4 separate regions of the Homo sapiens genome follow, and all the other regions are linked to region 2. The links come from fine-mapping of genetic effects on gene expression. A gene starts in region 2. Each other region holds a variant in brackets. All regions are shown on one strand. Distances are from middle to middle.

Region 1 (5,200 bases), 310 kb after region 2:
ACAAGACTGCTGCAAAGTGAAATAATTTCTATAAAGCAGAGAACTACATTCATCAGAGTTCCACAGAAAAATAGTTGGAGAGAATTAGCTTTCCCAGGGGTCTTTGTGCTTGTCCATTCACAAGAAAGGAGCTCTCGGAGAAACAAAGCTGCCCCTCGTCCACCTATCCTGGTGTGACCCAGCTTAGCGTCTGAGCAGAGGAAAAGTGTTGGTGGCCATTTCTGGTATGGGGAAAAAGCAAAAGGGAAGATGGTGCTGAAACAGCCGAGCGGATAACTTTTGCCTTCAATATACAAGAGATATTGAGAGAGGATGTGATAGGGAGAGAAGCTTTTTTTTTTTTTTTTTTAAGACAGAGTCTTAATCTGTCACCCAGGCTGGAGTGCAGTGGCACAATCTCAGCTTATTGCAACTTCCACCTCCTGGGTTCAAGCGATTCTCCCACCTTAGCCTCCCAAGTAGCTGGGATTACAGGCACCCACCATCATGCCCGCCATACAGGCACCCGCCATCATGCACCCATACAGGCATACATGCCTGCCATGCATGCACCCATACATGCACCCATACACCCATACATGCACCCATGCATACATGCACCCATACATACATGCAGCAGGCATACATGCACCCATACACCCATACATGCCCACCATACAGGCACCCACCATCATGCCCAGCTAATTTTTGTATTTTTTAGTAGAGATGGGGTTTCACCATGTTGGCCAGGCTGGTCTTGAACTCCTGACCTCAGGTGATCCACCCACCTTGGCCTTCCAAAATGCTGGGATTACAGGCATGAGTCACTGCACCTGGCTGCTTTATTTTGTTTTCAATGGTGTTTGCTGTGCATTGATCATTGTCTCTTTCTTTTAATGTTTGCTAGAGAAATGGAGTAAAGAAGTGAAGAATTAGTAATTAATTTAAATTGTTGGATTGTGTTTCTCCGAACATGCTACTGGGCTGAGAATGGACCATGTAGGGCTCTGGGATTTATTCAGGTTACCTAGCAAATTGAAGCAAGATATCATCAAGAACCAAAAAAGAATAATATGGACAAAGTGTGTTCTGGCTGTGTAGAAGCTGAGGGCTGCTGGAAGCGGGAAAGTCCTGGTGGAGGAAGTGGAATCTGATATCCAGCAGTGCAGAAGGTTTGGCTGGTGAAACTGAGGGGAAGGTGTGAAATTGGCAAAGAAAAAGTTGGGAATCTGCAGAGAGAGAGTAATAGCACACAGTGGGGAGGAAGCACAGCCTGGAGGCAGGAAGGACAGGGTCCAAGCATTGGGCAGCCAGGGAGAAAGGGAAGGCCATCAGGAGGGGAGCTGGGGAGATTGCCAAAATTCACCCTTTATTAGGAGAGCTTAGATGTAAAATATGGCCCTCGACACTATTGAATATATCATAGCAGTTAGATGGACTCAACTCAATGTGCATATCGTACATGGATAGAACTCAAACACATGGTGGTGAGCAAAACAAGAAAGAACCAGAAAAAAGTCTGTAGCACACTATCATTGATGTAATTTAGAAACCTCTACACCCATCAAGCTAAACTTTACAAGGACACAGACAACCAAGGACACCGTGTGCATCAAACTCATTAGAGAGGGCACCTGCAGGGAGGAGCAGGTGCACACAGGGGCTAGAATGGAAGAGGAGAAAAACAAGGACCTCCCCCAAACAAGAGAGGGAACTGGCATGGAGAGGTGATGGTGAAGTGGCAGGAATTAGGGGATAAGGTTACCTTAACTTCCTAAATCTACATTCAAAAAGGAAAACGTGCAAAAGACAGTCTTAGTTGACCACACAAGGCCAAGAGGAGAAGGGCTGTGGGCGCCAGTGGCAGCTCCTCCCATCTCCCCTGCTTTTGATGCTGCGAAAGGGAATAGCAGGTAACTCCACATCCAGGAGCTGCCACAGCAGGACACGGGATCAGGGATGGCCCGTGGGGTAGCAGAAAGAGCACAGGAGTTCCCTGGCCTGCCACCATCTGGCTGGTGACCGGTCAACTCCCTTCCCTGTTCTGGGTCCAAACTGCTTATCTATAAAATAGAGGGTTTGCACTGCAGGTCCTCTATAGACCCTTCCAAATCTAAAATCCCTACCCTTCCTCCTGACCTAGGAGAAAATACCAGCAACCTAAGGAAAGTTCAGCTCCAGTCACCTCCCGATTCTGGGCCATCCCAGAGGGTAGAGTCAGGCTCCACGATTTGATTTCATGGCCGGTGAATATAAAGCAAATCCATCAATGACCCCTCAATACACTGATATGAGAATTACAAATCAATCTTCATAGAGGTTATATTGTCTTTATAGTGTGCTTTGCATACGTTTGTATGACTCATGAAACCCTAAACATTTGTTTTTCTCTAAAAGAAGGAGTTATATTCAGTGACCGAAATGAACCATGCCAGTGTGTGTGTGTGTGTGTGTGTGTGTGTGTGTGTGTGTTTGGTGTTGGAAATGGGTGTAAATGCTGTTATTTTCCTTTCAGTAATGAACTGATTTCCTC[A/T]TCTAGGCAGGAGCACTCAAGGAATCAATGCTATTGACCACTGCCACAATTGTCATGTTTTAAGCCATTTCTCGTTTTATTCATGCTCTCGTGTATCTCCTGTGTTTGACAAGCTCTTTCTCTGGGTAATAAAGGACCATTTCTAGTTCCCTAGAACTGTTTATTTTGTCCCCTATTGTTTATTACAATGCAGGTGTGGACTATTTGTGAATTTGCCTAAGTAACAGAATTGAAGGTAGAGTAGTTGTAGACTCAAAATTTATTTATGAAGCATTAATATGGAACCTGAGCCTGGAAAGGTGGCGGGTGAGGGATTTCTGTGGGAGCCGGGAATGTTCTGCCTCTGGATTAGGGTGTTGGTTACACAGGGTATGTTCAGTTTGGGAAGACCCATCAAGCAGTACATTTATGTGTTTTTCTGCATATATATTATATTTCAATTATATATATATTTAATAAAAGTATTGAAGTCACCAGTAGCTCATATTCTTGTGGGGATGTGTAGGGATTAACAATCATTAATAGACTTGGTTACTAGTAGTCAAATTTCATCTCAGGCTCATAGAAGTTTAAACATGGAAGGGATCTTAGAAATAATTCAGTTTAATTTTTAATTTGCAGCTGAGGAAACACAGGCCCAGATGGAAAGTGGCTTGCCCAATCCCACACAGCAAGGCAGAGATGGATCCATCCAGCTCTCTCCTCCCAGCCAGGGCTTAGCGACAACACAGCTACAGGTGAGATGGTGCAACCAAAGAGAGCTGAGCTGTTGGAGACAAACATTGTGTTTATTCAGATATTCTCTGGTGGTTTCAGTCTAAACTGAGGAATTATTTGTGTTGAAGGTCACCTACCATCCTATAGTAATCTGTGGCAAAATTACTGGAATCTACATCTGAAAGTCCTTCTGCGGGTTCTTACTTCTAAGTCAAAGATTATCTGAATTAAGGCTGGATATGTGTTTGTGAAGGGAGAAGGAAATAATTTACCAGCGATTGATGGGTGCTGTTTACATATAGAAGCATTTTTTTTTTTTTAGTTTGGAGCTAAGGTAATTTGCTTTTAGATATGCAGAATAAGGCAAGGCCATTTCTGTTTCCTGCCTTTCTCCTCCCAGGGGCATGAGAGGCTCAGAGGCCTGGTCCTCTGGCTGGTGGAGCCTTGGAGGCAGTAGTGAAGATCCCTGGAAGAGGGAGGCCATGAAGAGGGATGCAGATACCTGGCAAGCCCACCTCCCTTCTATGCCACCTGCCAGCCTTCTCTGACATTCCCAAACCAGGGACCAACACCGCCAATCAGGGAAGATTTACACGCATTTAATTATGTAAGTCTCATTAGTTGACGCAGAGGGAACTCGTACGATGAACACACTCTGGCAAGTCAGTTATTTAGCACCTCTCCCTACCTGCTCCACCTGGAAGAGGCCCATGAAATAAATGCCCTGAGTCGTTTGGGCAGTAAACTAGAAACTCAGAATCCATAACTCAGGTTTCCTACACTGTCAGTGTAGGAAATGCTGTATTGGCAATTTCAAACAAATAAACTGGTTTTGGGGGAGGGAGTGGGGTGCTGAGAAGGGAAGGGGAGGGAGGGACAGACACAGGGAAGGGGAAACAGAAAGAGGATGAGAAAGCATGCCCTAAACAAGGAGGCTGCCACTGAAGTTTGTGCTTCAGGCCAGAACAAAAGGCAGAGGCCTTTAGCAAGGCAAGTGCTGAAGTCCACAGGCAAGGAAAAGAAAAGACTTTAAGCAATGATTAAAAGAGGCAGAGAAACTCATAACCTGTGTTTGTTGTACCAGAAAGAAAAGCTTATACATATAGTTTATTAGTTTCCACCATTGTCATCGCCTCTGGCAGCATGTACAGTAGGAAATACCAGAAGGGAGGAAAAAAAGCAAAACAAAACTTAAACTTGATTCCCCTCCTGCTAACCCTGTCCTGTCAAGCAAGGCGAGATAAGGGGAACAGTTCACCTTGTCCTCCTGAAGATCAGGCCATCAGGATAGGGTGGCCTAGGGATCACCACGAAAAGCAAATGAGTTGTTGTTGCTGTTACAACTCAAAACCCCTTTTAGAAGCTGGGGCCCCAGCCAGGCTTTAGAAGTCCACAATGGGCATTGTTTCAGGAATCCCCCACCCTGCAGAAAAGGGACTTTATTTTTGTTCCATCGCAGCAGAGCTCTAGCTAACGTCCAGCCTCAGGCCCTTTCCCGCACAGCTACCCCTGGCAGGACGCTCGCCGGTTTAGCCCAGCCTGTCTGCCCCTCCACCTTTTGCCTTCTCTAATTCTCCCCAGCTCTCTCTCTCCTCTTTTTTTTTTAATAGTAAAAAAAAAAAGCTGGAGAAGCTACTTGAAGTCTGGGGTTTGGACAGGAGGTGAGATCACTCTCCCAGAGGCACCATGGGGCAGAAGTGGAGAGCCAGGCACTGTCCCCAGCTGGCCTATCCTGGCCACTTCCTTCCCAGGCCCATGTGGGTCACTGGGCTCCTCAGAGTTGGTGTGACCCTGGGTTCCATGGGAAAGGTCTGCTCCTCACTCCAGCCCAGGCCTCTTTCTGATCCGTAGGCAACGGCTGTGGTCTGGGCAGGCTGCTTTCTCCTAACCTGCCTTAGGGTTTCTTTCAGCTTAAAACAAAAACAGGGTGCTCCATGCACACTGTTTCTAGATTCCATTATATTTAGCAAG
Region 2 (5,000 bases):
TTGCTGGAAATATTCCATTTCTTGACCTGGTTGATTGGTTACATGGTGGTTTCCTTTATAATCACTTATACTATATAATTGCTTTATGTATTTAAACTATATTTCACAATAAAAATGTTAAAATTAATATAGATAGTATTTCTGGAAAGCAAAATTTTGCCAGATAATTTAGCTTACACAATCTTTGACAGTAAAAGCCACTGATATGGAATAACGAAACACTGATTAGTTTCTTGTAAGAGCTCACTTTCAAGTGTAGAGGTCAAAAACCTTATAAGAGTCTCCGTTTTTCTATATTTTAACACAGTATTTAGATCCTTATCTTAAATTGATGAACCAGGGAAGTAACTATTAGCTAAAACTTCAGATTTTTTGGAATTTTTAATTAACTAGCTGTTTTCTCCTCTGGATTAATAAGCAATACAAGGAACTAAAGAGATGCAGACCAAGTTGGAAATGTATGAACTTCCTTCTCTCCAGTCTCCAGTTCCAGCTGTTTCCTCCTGTTATCAAGCTGGGTGCTGAGGTGGGTATCTAGCCCAGTAAGCTTAGTGTGCTGTTATTAAATACTTTCTAAGTAAGTGGCTCAGGCTCTCCTGAGTGCCCTTCTGTTCCTCAGCACTGAGGTTGTAAGGTGGAGCCACTGACAATGAAAACAGAAGATCACGCTGCTGAAAAACCCTATGTGGTACACACTTAACTGGAGGTGTTCTCTGCTGGGCTGCAGAACTCTGATGTTTGCACTCTTTTCCTTCAAAGCCTACAAAGGTTAAACTCTCTGAGGTGTTTAGCTTCACAAAATCCCCTAAATCTGTGTGTTTTACTCCTTTAATTTCCACCATTCCCCTGTTGTAAGATAGGAAGAGGGGGAAAAACAAAAAATATTTATTTTGTAGCCATGTGAGACCATCACTTGTTGGTCTGATTACCTGTGAGTCTTATTTGGAAGGCTGTAGCAGGGGATTGGTCACGTAAAGACAGAAAAATCCAGGGTAATTTAAGCAGGATATTTAACCTGGCTCTTGGAACTTCAGGTCAAGGGCAGTAGGGTCAGGTGCTAGTCTGTGAGTCTCTCCTTGGTTTTGCCACATCCTCCTTTGCCCCTCTCACCACCTTTCCCGCAGCATTTTAATGAACACGAGCCCTTGGATTTACCCAGTTAAAAGTTTCCTTAGTTTACTGTTTGCAGATGGTAGTGGCAGTAGTGGGAGAAACCCAGAGCTTCCCACATTTGTCTATAATACACTTGCTCCTACCTTACCCCCTCCTCCAGGTGGAAAGACTTGTAAAATCCATTACTACTGCTTCCCAAGGAGGTAGAGTGTACTAGGGTCCAGGGACAGAATTGTGGAATCTGCTTTCATCATTGCTGCTGCTTTAATCTTTTTCTCATACTATTCACTGAAGACAGATTTCTGAGGATTCTGGTCCTTTTATCTTAAATTTGTTTTCCTAGAGAACTACACTTTAAACTTCATGAGTTTCTACTTAACTTTCCTTTCCAGGATAACATCTGTAGGAAAAGCTGCATAATAGTAATAACACTTATTTTAGAAAGAAAATAACCTTTGAGTCAGACCTGAAACAGGCCAACATTTCTTGATGACAACGTACACTGATGAACCAAGACCAGAAGCTCTCGAAAGCTCCAAACCGTAAGAAAGAACCATTCGTAAAAGTGAGGGACTATTAAATTCTTCCCCTGACAGTCAAAAATCCTTCAGCAATCTCCCAGAGGATGGCTCCCTTCCAATCCTCCCTTCCCGCCGCCCTAACAATCTGCGCGAGGATGGGTCCCTTCCCTTGCTCGGCATTTCGTCTCCTTTTCCACTAAAGACTCAGGTTGTGACTCTGTACTCAAGCCGCACCCCTGTTTCCTTTCATGGCTAGGGGGAGGGGAGGAATGTATTACAACTCATTTTTACAATGCACTGCAGTTTACAAAGCGCTTGCACTTCCACCATATCCTCTGAGCTTCACGAGTGCCACGTGAGAGAGGCATTCATTCATTCATTCATTCATCAAACATTTGCTCGGCCCGACCACACGTTATCCAACGCTGGGTCTCACCCCACGCCACGGGAAGGGTGGGGCGCTCTCTCCCTGGAGCAGGTGCAGATCAGGCTGTAGGGTAACTCCTCGATCAGTCCGGCTTTTCGAGGGTCTGTTTGGGGCCAAATGCCTCACCTTCGGGTGGTGCGCGCAGCTGCCTGAAGACGCGGCCTGGGCCTCCTCCTTCCTCCCAAAGGAGCAGTCCCCACCTGCCCCGAAGGAAACCGCTACAGACCAAGCTCTCCAGGCCGCCCTCGGGTCAGGGGTAAGATCGGGCGGCAGCTTAGGCTCGACTCGGCTCCTCCCCTTCCTCTCTTCAGTTCTGACGCGGCCGTAGAGGCGGCAGCGGCGGTGGCGGCTGCGAGTCCCGCGGCCCGAGGCGCACCCACCCGCTCGCCGATCCCCACTTCCTCTTCCCTTGGAGCGTCATCAGAGCGCGCCAGAGGCGCCCAGGGCGGGGTGGCTGGAAGGGGGAAAAAGGCCAGCGGAGGAAGCCTCAGAGCGGAAAGAAGAGGGAGGGGGAAGAGAGCGGTTGCTAGGTGACTTGCGTCATCGGCAGGCGCCGCTCTCCTCCCGCCCCTCTCTCTGGAGTGAGGCGAGAGCCCCGCACAGAGCGAGGGAGACAGCGAGCTGAGCTCCGGGCGCTGCCGCTGCCGCTGCCGCCGCCGCCGCCGCTGAGACTGAGAGCGAAGGAGCATCCGAGAGATCCAGTCCCCCTGCACTGGCCGCCGCCGAGACCTTCGCTCTCACCTGGGCCAGCGGGAGCCGCGGCCGCACTCCTTTCCCCCCCTCACCTTCCCGGCCGGCAGCGGCGGCTGCACACGCCGGAGCCGGAGCCAGAGCCGGAGCCCGAGCCTGAGCCGGAGCCGGCGGCTTGGGGGGCAGGGAGGCGGCTACCACGGGCCGGGAGTGGGTAGCTGCTCCGCGGTGAGAGAACGCTGAGGAGGCGCCAGAGCTTCTGCCTCGTCCCGTGGGGCGTGGGGCGAGACCCCCAAGGTGTAGGGAGGGGGGTCCCAGCCGCAGCGACACATGCGGGAGCCGGGAGCGGGGGCGGCGCCGAGCGGAGCCGGCCGGGTCCCTCGCCTTGCCGCCGACTCGGCCACCCGCCCGGGGCCGTAGCATCTTGCCCCGGAGTGTATGAACCGGGGCCCCAACCAAGCTCGGCAACCACCCCCCGGCCGGGGGGGCGGGGACCCCGATGTGAAGCGGCGGCTGGGGCGGCGGAGAGAACAGGACCGACGCCGCCGTCCTTTCCTCACCTTCCCCCTCCCCTCAGCCCCCTCCGGGGGTCTTCTCCCTTGGCCAGTCGCCGGCCCCCCGGCTCCTTGGCTGGACTCCGGGAGGAGTTCCTAGAGCCCCCCTCCCCCGCCCCAGTCCCGAGGGCGGCGGGGCCGGGGGGGACCCGGGGGGCCGGCCGCAGCCTCCACCCAGAGGAAACTTTACAAAAACAAAATCCGGAGTCTCCCAAACCTGACTGTCCCGGGAGAAGTGGCCCTGGACGGGCAGAAGCCGCAGCCTGAAAAGACCCAGGAAGAGGAAAAGAGGAGGTAAGCGGGGCCGCCGCCTCCCCTCCCCTGGCAGCGCGGAAGAGACCCGGGTTGCCGCCTGGTTTAGCGACACGAGCACCGCTTCTTCCTCAGTACCGCGCCGGAGCCTTCCGCAGCTGCCGCTTCAGTCCGAAGGAGGAAGGGAACCAACCCACTTTCTCGGCGCCGCGGCTCTTTTCTAAAAGTGTGAGTGGCCCCGGGAGAGGGAATTGAGGGGGAGAAAGTGGGAGGATGCCGGCGCTTCCTCCTGGAGTTTTGCTGATGTTCTCCAGTAGTGTTGGGAGTCTATCAATGAGGGAGTCTAGCTTTATTCACGGAGGGGGGAAGGTGTTAGGGAGGCCTGTATTTTGTAACTTTTTAGCTCTTTGTACGAGTAATGCAAGTATGCAGGTTTCTGTCGGAGGAGTCTTTTCTCCAAAGTGAATACTCGCACCTTTCTGGCCAGCAGTTGGCAAAGGGAAATTGAGGAAGCCAGAGCATATGTGCGCACAGAGGCCATCTGTATCTGTAACCTTTTCCTGGTACTGTGGGTGTGTGCGGTGTACTTTTTGTTTCGGGGGTACTCTCATATAGGTTCCCGAATGAGAACTACTTAACCTGTGGACCCCTGAAAGTAAAATTCCTTTTTTAAAAAACAACAACAAACCTGTTTTGAGAGAGGTTCATTTCAGTACCTATTGGTACAGGAGTTAACCTTCTCAGTTACTGGGTCCAATTTCATGTGTGTCAGGAGGACACTGTAACAGATGTCAGTTACTCAGGAACTTGAGTTGTTAGGAATCACAACTTACTTGGGGAAGAGCATTTATCACATTAATCATTTTATAAAAGTTGTGATTTTTTCCCTTTCACCCCCCCCTTTTTTTTTTTAGAGTAACAAATTACAGCACTTTTTTATTTGGTTTGAGGCTTTGCTTTTTTGAATTATCTTTATTTCTGTATCAATTTAGGATACATCTTTGATATTTAAGTCAGGAATGATTTTTTCCTTCCATTATTTTAAAGCTGAAGTTTATAAAACCTTTGACTTGTATTTTAGGTATCTTGTCAGAGTACCAAATTAAAGGTTTATGAAAGTAATTAATATTTCATATACAGACCTTAAGGGTTAAACATAGAGCAGAATTTTATGTAAGAAGACATAGACAGTAGTATACTGAGAATTGTGGTCCGTCTAGACAACTGTGGGCTCGTTCTGTCTGAAGCCACTGCTGAGAGATACTTTGTGGGAATGAATGTAAGCCTGGGGTTATCTCTCTTTTCGAAGTTCTCCATTCAGGATCTTGATTAGATTAATTTAAAACTTTCTCAAACTTAACAATGTTTGGTCCTTTTTTTTAAAGTAATGAGTTCTGCAAGTTTATTAGCCTGTGTATTATGTGACAGTTCATTTACATATTC
Region 3 (5,200 bases), 160 kb before region 2:
TCTCAGCATGGAACGTCCCTGAGAAAGAGAATGCGCACCTAGGGGTAGGTCTCTGAACTGGCCCCCCGGGGCGTACCTGTCTCTTATGGTCGAGATTACAGAGGTGCAATAAACTCCAGTCTCCCATACCGCTCCCAGGCTTATTAGGAAGAGGAAATTCCCGCCTAATAAATTTTCGTCATACCGGTTGATCTCAAAACCCTGTCTCCTGATAAGATGTTATCAATGACAATGGTGCCCAAAACTTCATTAGCAATTTTAATTTCGTTTCAGTCCTGTGGTCCTGTGATCTCGCCCTGCCTCCACTTGCCTTTTGATATTCTATTACCCTTTTAAGTACTTGATGTCTGTCACCCACACCTATTCGCACACTCCCTCCCCTTTTGAAAATCCCTAATAAAAACTTGCTGGTTTTGTGGCTTGTGGGGCATCACGGATCCTACCAATGTGTGATGTCTCCCACGGACGCCCAGCTTTAAAATTTCTCTCTTTTGTACTCTGTCCTTTTATTTCTCAAGCCAGTCGACGCTTAGGAAAATAGAAAAGAACCTACGTGATTATCGGGGCAGGTCCCCCGATAACAATACACCATGGGAAATCTGCTACAGTGTTGAATTTGCGGTAGGAAGAAAAGCTACAGTGGAGAGTGGAAGATCACCAAAAGATCATCTCAGAGAGGATGTGAGTCTGGGATGGAGTTGGTTCAACATTAGGGCCAAGATATTATTCAGGAGAAATATTTTCAGCAAGGACCCAGTGGAAATGTAGCAATGTGGTGCCTGGCTCTCAGCCATCAGATGCCCAGCTGCCAATAGATGTCATGCTCCCTAACCTGCGAGGGAGGGGCTGTGAAGTCATTTTTAATCTGCATGCCCCACTCCCACAAGACAGTCTGACAGTGATAGATACAGCTCAAGAGAAGTGCTGAGAATGCCACAGGCTGACTCTCCCAGATAAAGAACATGAAATGATTTCATTACTTTTGCTCTCCCTGACAGCTCTCTAGAAAACAATCATTGGTTTAAGCAACCAGCCTCCAGGCCAGAACCAGCAGGCCTAGGGAAGGAGTGACTTTTTTGTTTTTCTCAGGAGGATTGTCTAGGTGAAGTGCTTAGGGCATGAGACCTGGGCCAGAAATTGCTTTTACTCTCATGGTCTTATTCTGAAGATTTATTTGCAGGCTTAGGGATGTTCTAGTTGCAAATAATTATCTTTGCTCAGTGAATGATTCCCCATCCTCATCCCTTACATGAATTCACATGAAAGAAGGCATATTTCTTCCCTTTCTAGCCCCAATAGCATTAGAGGTCACAGTTGGTTTTATTCTTGGGGATACAGAAATAGCCACCCATTCCCTTTAACTGGGTGCATGGTTTGGCCCAAGGCATGGGGTGTGACCGAATGAATTTACCCCAACCCAGGTCATTCACCTGATGGTTTGTGTTCTGCTGGAGAAAGATCTCCACTGGAAAAGGCCTGGACCTGAGGCTCATTCCAAAGGGCCCTGGCTTAACACTGCAGAATCCTCCTTCCAACCTGCACAGCTTTGAGCCTTCACTGTACCAGGGTCTCTAGAAGACTTACACGGATAGAGAATTTACTACTCTATCTAGGGCTTCGAACTGTAGCTATTAATTTTTGAATGTTTTTAAAGCACTACTGCAAAGTCTAAGTTTTGTTCATTTATTTCTTTAAGTATTTATTGTGGTATATATAATGTTGTTATAAATCATTTAGATTTATGAGTTGGTGTATTCCACTCTTATGCATGCCCTGCAGAGCCTAAGAACCCTAAAGAGATAATTATTATATATGCTCAGTTCTTAGACGTCCTTGAATAGTGTTCTCACCATGCATAGAAAACACGAGCCCCAGGGGAGTTTTGGTAGCCAGCTTGTTTTCTCCTTGAATTGGACATAGGTGGGAGGATGTTTTTTTCCTTCCTGCTCCCAAAGAACTCTTCTTTTCTTGCATAGAGAAGAATATAGAACTAAATATTTAATTAGGAGAATAAACACCAGGAGCTTGTAAAGAACTCAGTGTGAAGAGAGAAGGATAAGAAGTTTAAGGCAGGTGAAGAAGCTTCTTACACATATCTATCAAGAAAAATCATAACATTTTGTCCAGTCATGGTGGCTCACACCTGTAATCCCAGCAGTGTGGAAGTTTGAGGTGGATGGATGGCCTGAGCTCAGGAGTTTGAGACCAGCCTGGGCAACATGGTGAAACTCTGTCTCTAATAAAGAGACAGAAAAAAAAGAAAAGAAAAATCATAACATTTAGAAAAACAAAATAAAGAAAATGTAAAAGTCACCCATAATTTCACCACTCTGAGTTCATCATTGCTCACATTTTGGTGTATACTCTTCTAGGCTGTGTAGGTTGCAATGTGTGAATGTGCATTTTTGCATGCATGTGGTTTTTTTTTTTTTTTAACAAAAAGTAGTACACTGTGCATGATTGTAACTTGCTTTTTAAAATTCAAATATATTGCCTGACAAAGACAAGTAAAAATAAAATAAAATAAAATTCAAATATATCACAACCATTTTTTATGTCCATGTACAACAGCATAAGGATGTGCCACAATTTACCCAACTAATTCCCTCTAGGTTAGGTCTTTGCATCAAGCTAAATAGACAACCAATAAGTCCTAAATGATTCTGGCACCAAAGTTCAGAAAAGAGCTTTATGAATTAGAAAGAAATTAAGTGCAATGCCCATAGGCTGAAGACGGGAGGCTCACTAACCCTGAAGAATGGGGGAGAGAAATGTGCTAAGGGGCTAAAAATTAGGGTGGATAGAATACAAGTTAGGGAATGGATCTAAAATAGTTGAATCTGTGATGTCAAAAAAATATATAGTTTGGAAGCTGAATATTCTAGTTGTTTTCCTAGGAAAGTTGTGTAACCCTTTTGAGCCTCAATTTCTTCCTCTGTAAAATGGGAATAATTGTTTCTCTATCAGAGTGACTGTAAACATAAAATAAGGAGTTATACAAGACTCTGAACACTGCCTGTCATAGAATAAGTGCTCAATATTTCTTAGTTCCCCTGCTCCACTTCTACCTCTTTGGGTTGTATTGCTCTGGGAAAGTGTGTGGAAGC[G/A]AGGCTTGGACTCTGCACTGTGAGTGGACTTGTGTGCTAATGTGTTCTGATAACACAGGGGCCAGTTGCTTGGAAGGTGGTCAGAAATTAGTGAGTTTCATGCAGATGATTTTTCAAGTTAAATAAAACTTCTCTGAGTCTGAGGTCTGAATGAAAATTCTCTGGGTTTGAGGTCTTACTGAAGTGTTTTCCTTTCACAGCTCTAGTTGGCTGGCAGGTGTGGTATAACACAGTCATTCTCAGAGTGTGGTTCCCAGACAGCAGCAGCATTACCTGGAGCTTGTTGGAAATGCAAATTCTCAGGCCCCACCCAAGACCTACAGAATCAGAAACTCTGGGGCTGGATCCAGCAATCCGTGTTTCAACAAGCCCTGCAGGTGATTCTGATCTCAGAGATTGACTAGTGTGGCAAGAGTCCTGGAAACCCAGAATCCCTAGATCTGGAATATACTCTAGCTTACCATTCACTGTGGGGCCTTGGGCAGGTCACTTCCTTCCTCTAAACCTTCATTTTCTCACCTGGACAATGGGAAGATAATATCTTCCTCGTGACCTCAAATGATTGTTTCACAGGCCCAATGAGTTTAGAAAGGAGAAAGACATTCAATTAATGTATTCTAGAAATGGAATGTATACTTACTATTCTTGGTTCTTAGGCAGGGCAATGTAGAAAGCATCCCTATGTGATGAAGAATGGTTCTATTTTGATCATTGAAAGAAGAGTCTGTGCCCTCCTTGGAAAATCTCACTGGATGCTTTAACAGCCACCGTGGTAGTTTCTCCTATGCAAACCTAAATCCCTGTGCAAGGACAGTCAGTATCTCAAAATGTAAGGATGATATCAGTCACTGGGAAAAAAAAAAATTCTGGCAAAGTAAAAAACCCTTAGACATACAGAGTAATGTTTATTATTTGTTCTCCTTTTTCAGTCCTCAGTGAAAATAGAGAACAGCAAGTCACCCCTTAGAGGTGCACACCCCTCATCTACATGAATGGTATTACGTTGTCTCAGCCCTCCTTTCTTTCCGGCCGCACAGTTGTGCTTTCTTTCACCTCTGCTCAAAGGCTTCATTGTGCTCCCCTTTATTAGTCATCTTGGTTTCTCTTCTCTGAACCATTTCCAGTTTCTTTAGCCACAGCCTCCTATGACGTTCAGTCCTCTTCAGTTCTGGAGCCCAGCATATACTTATTAGGCTGGTGCAAAAGCAATTGCTGTTTTTGCAATTAAAAGTAATAGAACCATCAGAGAGGGTGACCACCATCAGAGAGGATGACCTCATGGTTCTAGCACACTCCACGGACAAAGCACTGCCCTGATGCCTCAGATCAAGGCTATGGCTCCTGGAGAAGCACTGGTGTGGATCAGTTTTACCCTAACTTCTCTTGTCATTCATGTTTTATTTTCATTTCCCTTTGTGTACCATCTTTTGTTTGTGTCTAATGATCTTTTCTATTCTCCCAACTTCTTTGATTTCCTAAATAGAAAGTAAATTTAATATATTTATATTTGCACAGATATTTAGAATAAATGCTCATAAAAAGATTGGAAGGAGAAACACCAGTATCTTAAAAGTAATTTTCCTTGGAAAGTGAGATTACAAGTGATTTCATTTGTTTTTTTCTTGCTTCTCTGAATATTTAAGTTTTTCGATGGTTGACACATCTATTGTTTAATTAAAAAAAAGAAAAAAGAAAATTGGAAAATTAACTCTTAGCATGCTCACAAAACAAATAAAATATAAAATGCTTGTGTTCAATGAGGTCTCATAGACCCACATGAAAGTGTCGTCTCCTGCAAGACACAAAGCTGTGCTTGGTCATAGGACTGTTCAGGACTGTCTCAGTTTTAGCCCTTGGAACTAGGCAAACCAGGACAGGTGGTCGCCCTCTCTCCCAGCCCCCTCCATCCTCTTTTTGTCTGTTAAACCGCCATGGCTGCTCACTGGTCTGTTAGGGCCCATCTCTCTTGTATCTTGCTTTGTCATTTCTAGGGAAGTTCAGCTCAATTGAGCCTTGAGGTAGGAAGACACCTCAGGAACAATATTTGTGTCTGCTGGTTCAGGTGAGGCTTAGCGGGAGTCAGAAGGCAAATA
Region 4 (5,200 bases), 110 kb before region 2:
ACTTTGTGTCTCTGCATTACATTTTGATAATTCTCACAATATTTCAAATGTTTTCAATACTACTATGCCTGTTATGGTGATCTGTGATCAGTTATCTTTGATATTACTGTTGTAATTGTTTTGGAGTGCCTGAAACCATGCTCACAGAAGACAGTGAACTTAATTGATAAACATTGTGTGTGTTCTGACTGCTTCACCAACAAGCCATTCCCTGTCTCTCTCCCTGTCTTCAGGCCTCTCTATTCCCTGATACAGAACAATATTGAAATTAGGCCAATTCATAACCCTACAATGGCATGTAAGTGTTCAAATGGAAGAAGAGTCACATATCTCTCATTTTAAGTGAAAAGCTAGAAATGATTAAGCCTTGTGAGGAAGGCAAGTTGAAAGCTGAGATAGGCTGAAAACCAGGCCTCTTGTGCCAAACATTTAGCCAAGTTGTAAATGCAAAGAAAAAGTTCTTGAAGGAAACTAAAAGTGCTACTCAGTGAACATACAATGATAGGAAAGCAAAGCAGTATTATTGTTGATATAGAGAAAGTTTCAGTGGTCTGGGTAGAAGATCAAACCAGTCACAGCATTCTCTTAAGCCTAAGCCTAATCCAGAGCAAGGCCTTAATTCTCCTTAATTCTACAAAGGCTGAGAGAGGTGAGGAAGCTGCAGAAGAAAAATTGGAAGCTAGCAGAGGGTGTTTCATGAGGTTTAAGGGAAAAAGCCATTTCTATAACATAACAGTGCAAGATGAAGCAGCAAGGACTGATGTAGGAGCTGCAGCAAGTTATCTAGAAGACCTAGTTCAAATCGTTGATGAAGGTGGCTACACTCAACCATAGATTTTCCATGTAGATGAAACAGTCCTCTGTTGGAAGAAGATGCCATCTGACTGGGCATGGTGGCTCACGCCTGTAATCTCAGCACTATGGGAAGCTGAGGCAGATCATTTGAGGTCAGGAGTTTGAGACCAGCCTGGCTAACATGGTGAAACCCTGTCCCTACTTAAAAAAAAAAAAAAAATGCCATCTAGGACTATTAATAGCTAGAGAGGAGAAATCACTGCCTGGCTTCAAAGCTTCAAAAGATATGCTGACTCTCCTGTTAGAAGCTAATGTAGTTGGTGACTTAAAGTCAATTCTTGTTTACCATTCTGAAAATCTGACAGCTCTTAAGAATTATGCTAAATCTACTCTGCCTGTGCTCTGTAAGTGGAACAACCAAGCCTGGATGTTAGCACATTTGTTTATAGCATGGTTTACTGAATAATTTAAGTCCACTGTTAAGGTCTACTGCTCAAAATACAAGATTCCACTAAAAATATTACTGCTCATTGACAATGCACCTGGTCACCCAAGAGGCCTGGTGGAGATGTACAAGGAGACTAACGTTTTCATGCCTGCTGATACAATATCCATTCTGCAGCCCATGGATTAAGGAGTCATTTTGAATTTCAAGTCTTATTGTTTAAGACATACATTTTGTAAGGCCATAGCTGCCATAGATGGTGAGTCCTCTGATAAATCTGGGAAGGAATCTTCTGGGAAGAATTCACCATTCTAGATGCCATTAAGAACATTTCCGATTCATAGGAGGAGATCAAAATATCAACATCAACAGTATTTTGGAAGACGTTGATTCCAAGACCCATGAATGACTTTGAGGGGTTCAAGACTTGAGTGGAGGGGTCACTGCAGATGTGGTAGAAAGAACAAGAGAACTAGGATAAGAAGTGAAGCCTGAAGATGCCATGGAATTGCTGCAATCTCATGATAAAACGTTAAGTGGCTGAGAAATTGCTTCTTCTGAATGAACAAAGAGTTTTGTTTTTTTTTTTGAGATGGAATCTACTCCTAGTGAAGATGCCATGAACATTGTTGAAATGACAACAGAGGATTTAGAATATTCCATAAACATAGTTGGTAGAGCAGCGGCAGGTTTTGTGAGAATCGTCTCCAATTGTGAAAGAATTCTATTGCAGATAAAATGCTATCAAACAAAGCATTGTATGCTACAGAGAAATCTTTGTGAAAGAGAGTCAATCAATGTGACACATTTCATTGTGATCTTACTTTAAGACATTGCCACAGCCTTCCCAACCATCAGCAACCACCACCCTGATCAGTCAGCAACCATCAACATCAAGGCAAGACCCTCCGCCAGAAAAATAATTACAACTTGCGGAAGGCTCAGATGATCGTTAGCATTTTCTAGCAATGAAGTATTTTAAATTAAGGTATATACATTGTCTCTGTAGACACAATGTTGCACACTTAATAGGTTACATTGTAGGAAAAACATAACTTTTTATGCATTTGGAAACTAAAAAATTAATGTGACTTGCTTTATTGCAATACTCACTTTATTGCAGTGGTCTGGACCTGAACCTGCATATTTCTGGGGGATGCTTTTCTACTGCTGCCATCTTTGACCCTAATCCAGATGAGGATCCTGTATAATTTTAGCCAATAAGCCAGTATAACATTTCCCATCACTGGGGAAAGAGAAAGGCTGATCAAGGAGTGAGTCAGATTAGGGTTAGGGATGGGAAGGCTAGAGGCCTTGGGGTCATCACCACCAGAAGAGCATTCTTTCATCTATATTTCTGTTACAGATTTTATTTTCTCCCCCACCCCACATCCCAATTTGATCTTGAAAAGTCCTGGAGGAAGCATTGTTCTTATTCCCA[T/C]TGAAGCTATGCTAACTTTTATAATCAAATTCTTCAACTGTCTAAAGATTACTAACATCAATCCGAAAACCAATTATAGAAAATTCCCTCAGTCAGAGACCCACTTTGAGAGTATTCAGTTGTGATTCAAGGAGCATCACGTGCTAGGAGTCAGGGTAGTTCTAGGTCTAAAGCAGACTTGGGTACTTTTGGCTTGTGCCAGTAAAACTCGCTCGGATTCGATTTTTAAGTTAAAGCCTTTATAGTCTTTCCAAAAAGTTACTCAAAGGATAGGAACGTCTCTAATACAATACATAGTCATACATGTATACAAAACTCACTTTATGTCCCTCACACCCATGACAGGGCACCTCTGGCTTTGGGGCCATGCCCTTGTCCCACATGCCCACCTCACTGTCTCTGTGCCAGAGGAATCTTTCACAGTCAGCAGATGAGGCAAATGTGAGCTGGGGAAGAAGCCCCGAAGAGTATTTCCTTTCATGGCAGAGGCCCATATAATAGATTCCAAAGAAGTGGGAAATACATGTTTCTCCACTGCTTGAAATTTCAGGACTTCCTAATAACATGGTCATATGGAGGCTTCTTTCTAAGCTTAAGAAAAAAAAGCAAACAGAGCTTTTTAAATTTTTTAAAATTCAGGAAAAGTCATAATTTCCTTCCCCAAACCATGACTGGTTTTACCTAATGGACTCAAGGGGTGGGGGGATGTTGGAGGTATCCACTCACATGGTGAGGCTCTTAGGCTCCAAATCCAGAAATTGATTTTTCATTGAATTTCATTGTGAAAGTCTCAAGGTTCAAAAGCCATTTACAAGCGAGAGCCAGCCTCAACCTCAGACATGGTCCATGCATCCTCCACTCTAACAACACTTGAAGTATTTGCTATTCCCAGAACTTGACTTGACTTTCAGGATGCCTCCATGCCTGGTTGATACCATTTCTTCTGTCTGGAATTTTCTTCCTGTCTGCTTGGCAAACTGCCATCCCTTTTTCCAGGGCCCAGGTCTGTTTTTGTTTTGTTTAAGAGACAGGGCCTTGCTCTGTTACCCCGGCTGGAATGCGGTGGCACAATCATAGCTCACTGCAGCCTCAAACTCCTGGGCTCAAGTGATCCTCCCACCTCAGCCTACAGAGTAGCTGGTACCACAGGCCTGTGCCACCATGCCTGAGTAGTTTTTGACATTTTTAAAAAACGTTTTGTAGAGATGGAGTCTTGCTATGTTGCTCAGGCAAGTCTCAAACTCCTAGGCTCAAGTGATCCTCCCACCTCAGCCTCCCAAAGCACTGGGATTACAGGTGTGAGCCACCACGCCCCCCTGCTAGGGCCCAGTTTTTAGGAAGCCTTGAATAATCCTCCCCTAGGAAAAATTAATTACCATCTCTTCTGTGCTCTCAGAATACTTTGTTCACACTCTTTGTTCACAGTATTCACATTGTCATAAGTTGGTGACTTGTTTCCCTTCCTTCCTTCCTTCTCTTTTTTCTTCTTTTCTTTCTGGGTGATGTGGTCGTTAAGGTCCAGGAGAACCAAGAGCTAGTCTTATTTGTCTTGTGTGACAGTGTGGCATTGAGGTTGAGAGTCCAGACTCAAACCACACACACTGCTTGGTTGGCTTGCACTTCCTGGCACCGTGACTCTCTGATTAAGTTTCTTCATCTGTAAAATGGGCAAATTCAATACCCACCTCATAGAGTTGTGAGAATTAAATGGTTTATATAGGCAAATCACTTAGAAAAAATCAGTACCTGGCATAAGTGCTAAGTGCTAGCTTATTATCATCCCTTTACCTAACTCAACGCCTAGCCCAACACACACTAGCTGCTTGTATATGTTTGTTGAATAAGTGACTTAATTAAAGAACATTAGAATGTTTATTAAAGAACATCTACGCTCAGAGGGAAAGTCAAATTTGTACATTATCCTTACTAAAAATTGGTACATTATTTTTACCTTAAATATGCCTAACTTTAAAAAAAACAACAGAGAAAACTTAGCATTTCAAAACAATTGGCTTATCACAAAAGTTTTTGATGGAGAGTTTTATTTGAATTTTTTTCTCTTATCAGCCAATGCTTTAACACAGACGTGATCACTAACTGCTTAACAGATGGACAACTTTTCAGAAAAACTGAATGCTAAAAGTTAATAAAAGCAGAATATTTACATGAGCAAAATTTGATTTTTTTTCAGGTAAAATACAACTATCATGGAAGGTCATACCAGCGTTTTGCTTGGAAAGCTCCCACAGAAATGCTTTATAGGAGAGCATGGACACCTGCACACTATGTCCCCTGGGAAGTTAGAAGCAGACATACTGTTTCTTACTGCACTTGGGTAGAGCCTGGTCTGTTATACTATACTAGGAAATAAGTCTTTAAATTTGACAATGGGAGAGGACTTGGCCAAAACTTTTAGAACACTTCATCTGATTGGAAATTACTTTTTCCTTTGGGCTTGTCCATTTCATGTTCAGGGAAAGGGAAACATGATGTAGTAACGTGATGTTCTGCTCTCATTC

Alleles and levels. Positions count from the first base shown, and alleles are read on the strand shown. Sizes are in standard deviations (SD) of each study's normalised expression. Not every link is listed here.
With allele T in place of A in region 1, the expression in CD4 T cells of the gene that starts at base 2,634 in region 2 is higher (large effect, 0.89 SD a copy in Kasela 2017).

Evidence for each region.
Region 1: its variant is fine-mapped to the expression of FBXW7 in CD4 T cells (Kasela 2017, PIP 0.95).
Region 3: its variant is fine-mapped to the expression of FBXW7 in whole blood (TOPMed, PIP 0.95).
Region 4: its variant is fine-mapped to the expression of FBXW7 in whole blood (INTERVAL, PIP above 0.99).

Annotation. Positions count from the first base shown.
Region 1 is chr4:152,223,880-152,229,079 of GRCh38, reverse strand. LOC105377490 (a long non-coding RNA gene) reads left to right here and starts at 3,208. Exons shown (of 3, transcript NR_188450.1): 1 at 3,208-3,249; 2 at 3,630-3,836. The variant A/T (reference allele first, on the strand shown) is at 2,513.
Region 2 is chr4:152,533,726-152,538,725 of GRCh38, reverse strand. It overlaps FBXW7 (F-box and WD repeat domain containing 7), which reads left to right and starts at 2,634. Exons shown (of 14, transcript NM_001349798.2): 1 at 2,634-3,599; 2 at 3,693-3,785. It overlaps MIR4453HG (MIR4453 host gene), which reads right to left and starts at 2,462. Exons shown (of 1, transcript NR_033797.2): 1 at 1-2,462. It overlaps MIR4453 (microRNA 4453), which reads right to left and starts at 2,298; the gene lies at 2,210-2,298. RefSeq lists enhancers at 2,339-2,698, 2,404-2,939, 4,189-4,288 and a silencer at 2,809-3,598.
Region 3 is chr4:152,696,081-152,701,280 of GRCh38, reverse strand. No RefSeq gene overlaps it. Among named protein-coding and RNA genes, the nearest start is that of TMEM154, 19 kb to the right of the region's middle. RefSeq lists enhancers at 55-566, 4,038-4,087, 4,118-4,347. The variant G/A (reference allele first, on the strand shown) is at 3,108.
Region 4 is chr4:152,647,000-152,652,199 of GRCh38, reverse strand. All of the region lies in intron 3 of TMEM154 (transmembrane protein 154), which reads left to right. Among named protein-coding and RNA genes, the nearest start is that of TMEM154, 30 kb to the left of the region's middle. The variant T/C (reference allele first, on the strand shown) is at 2,682.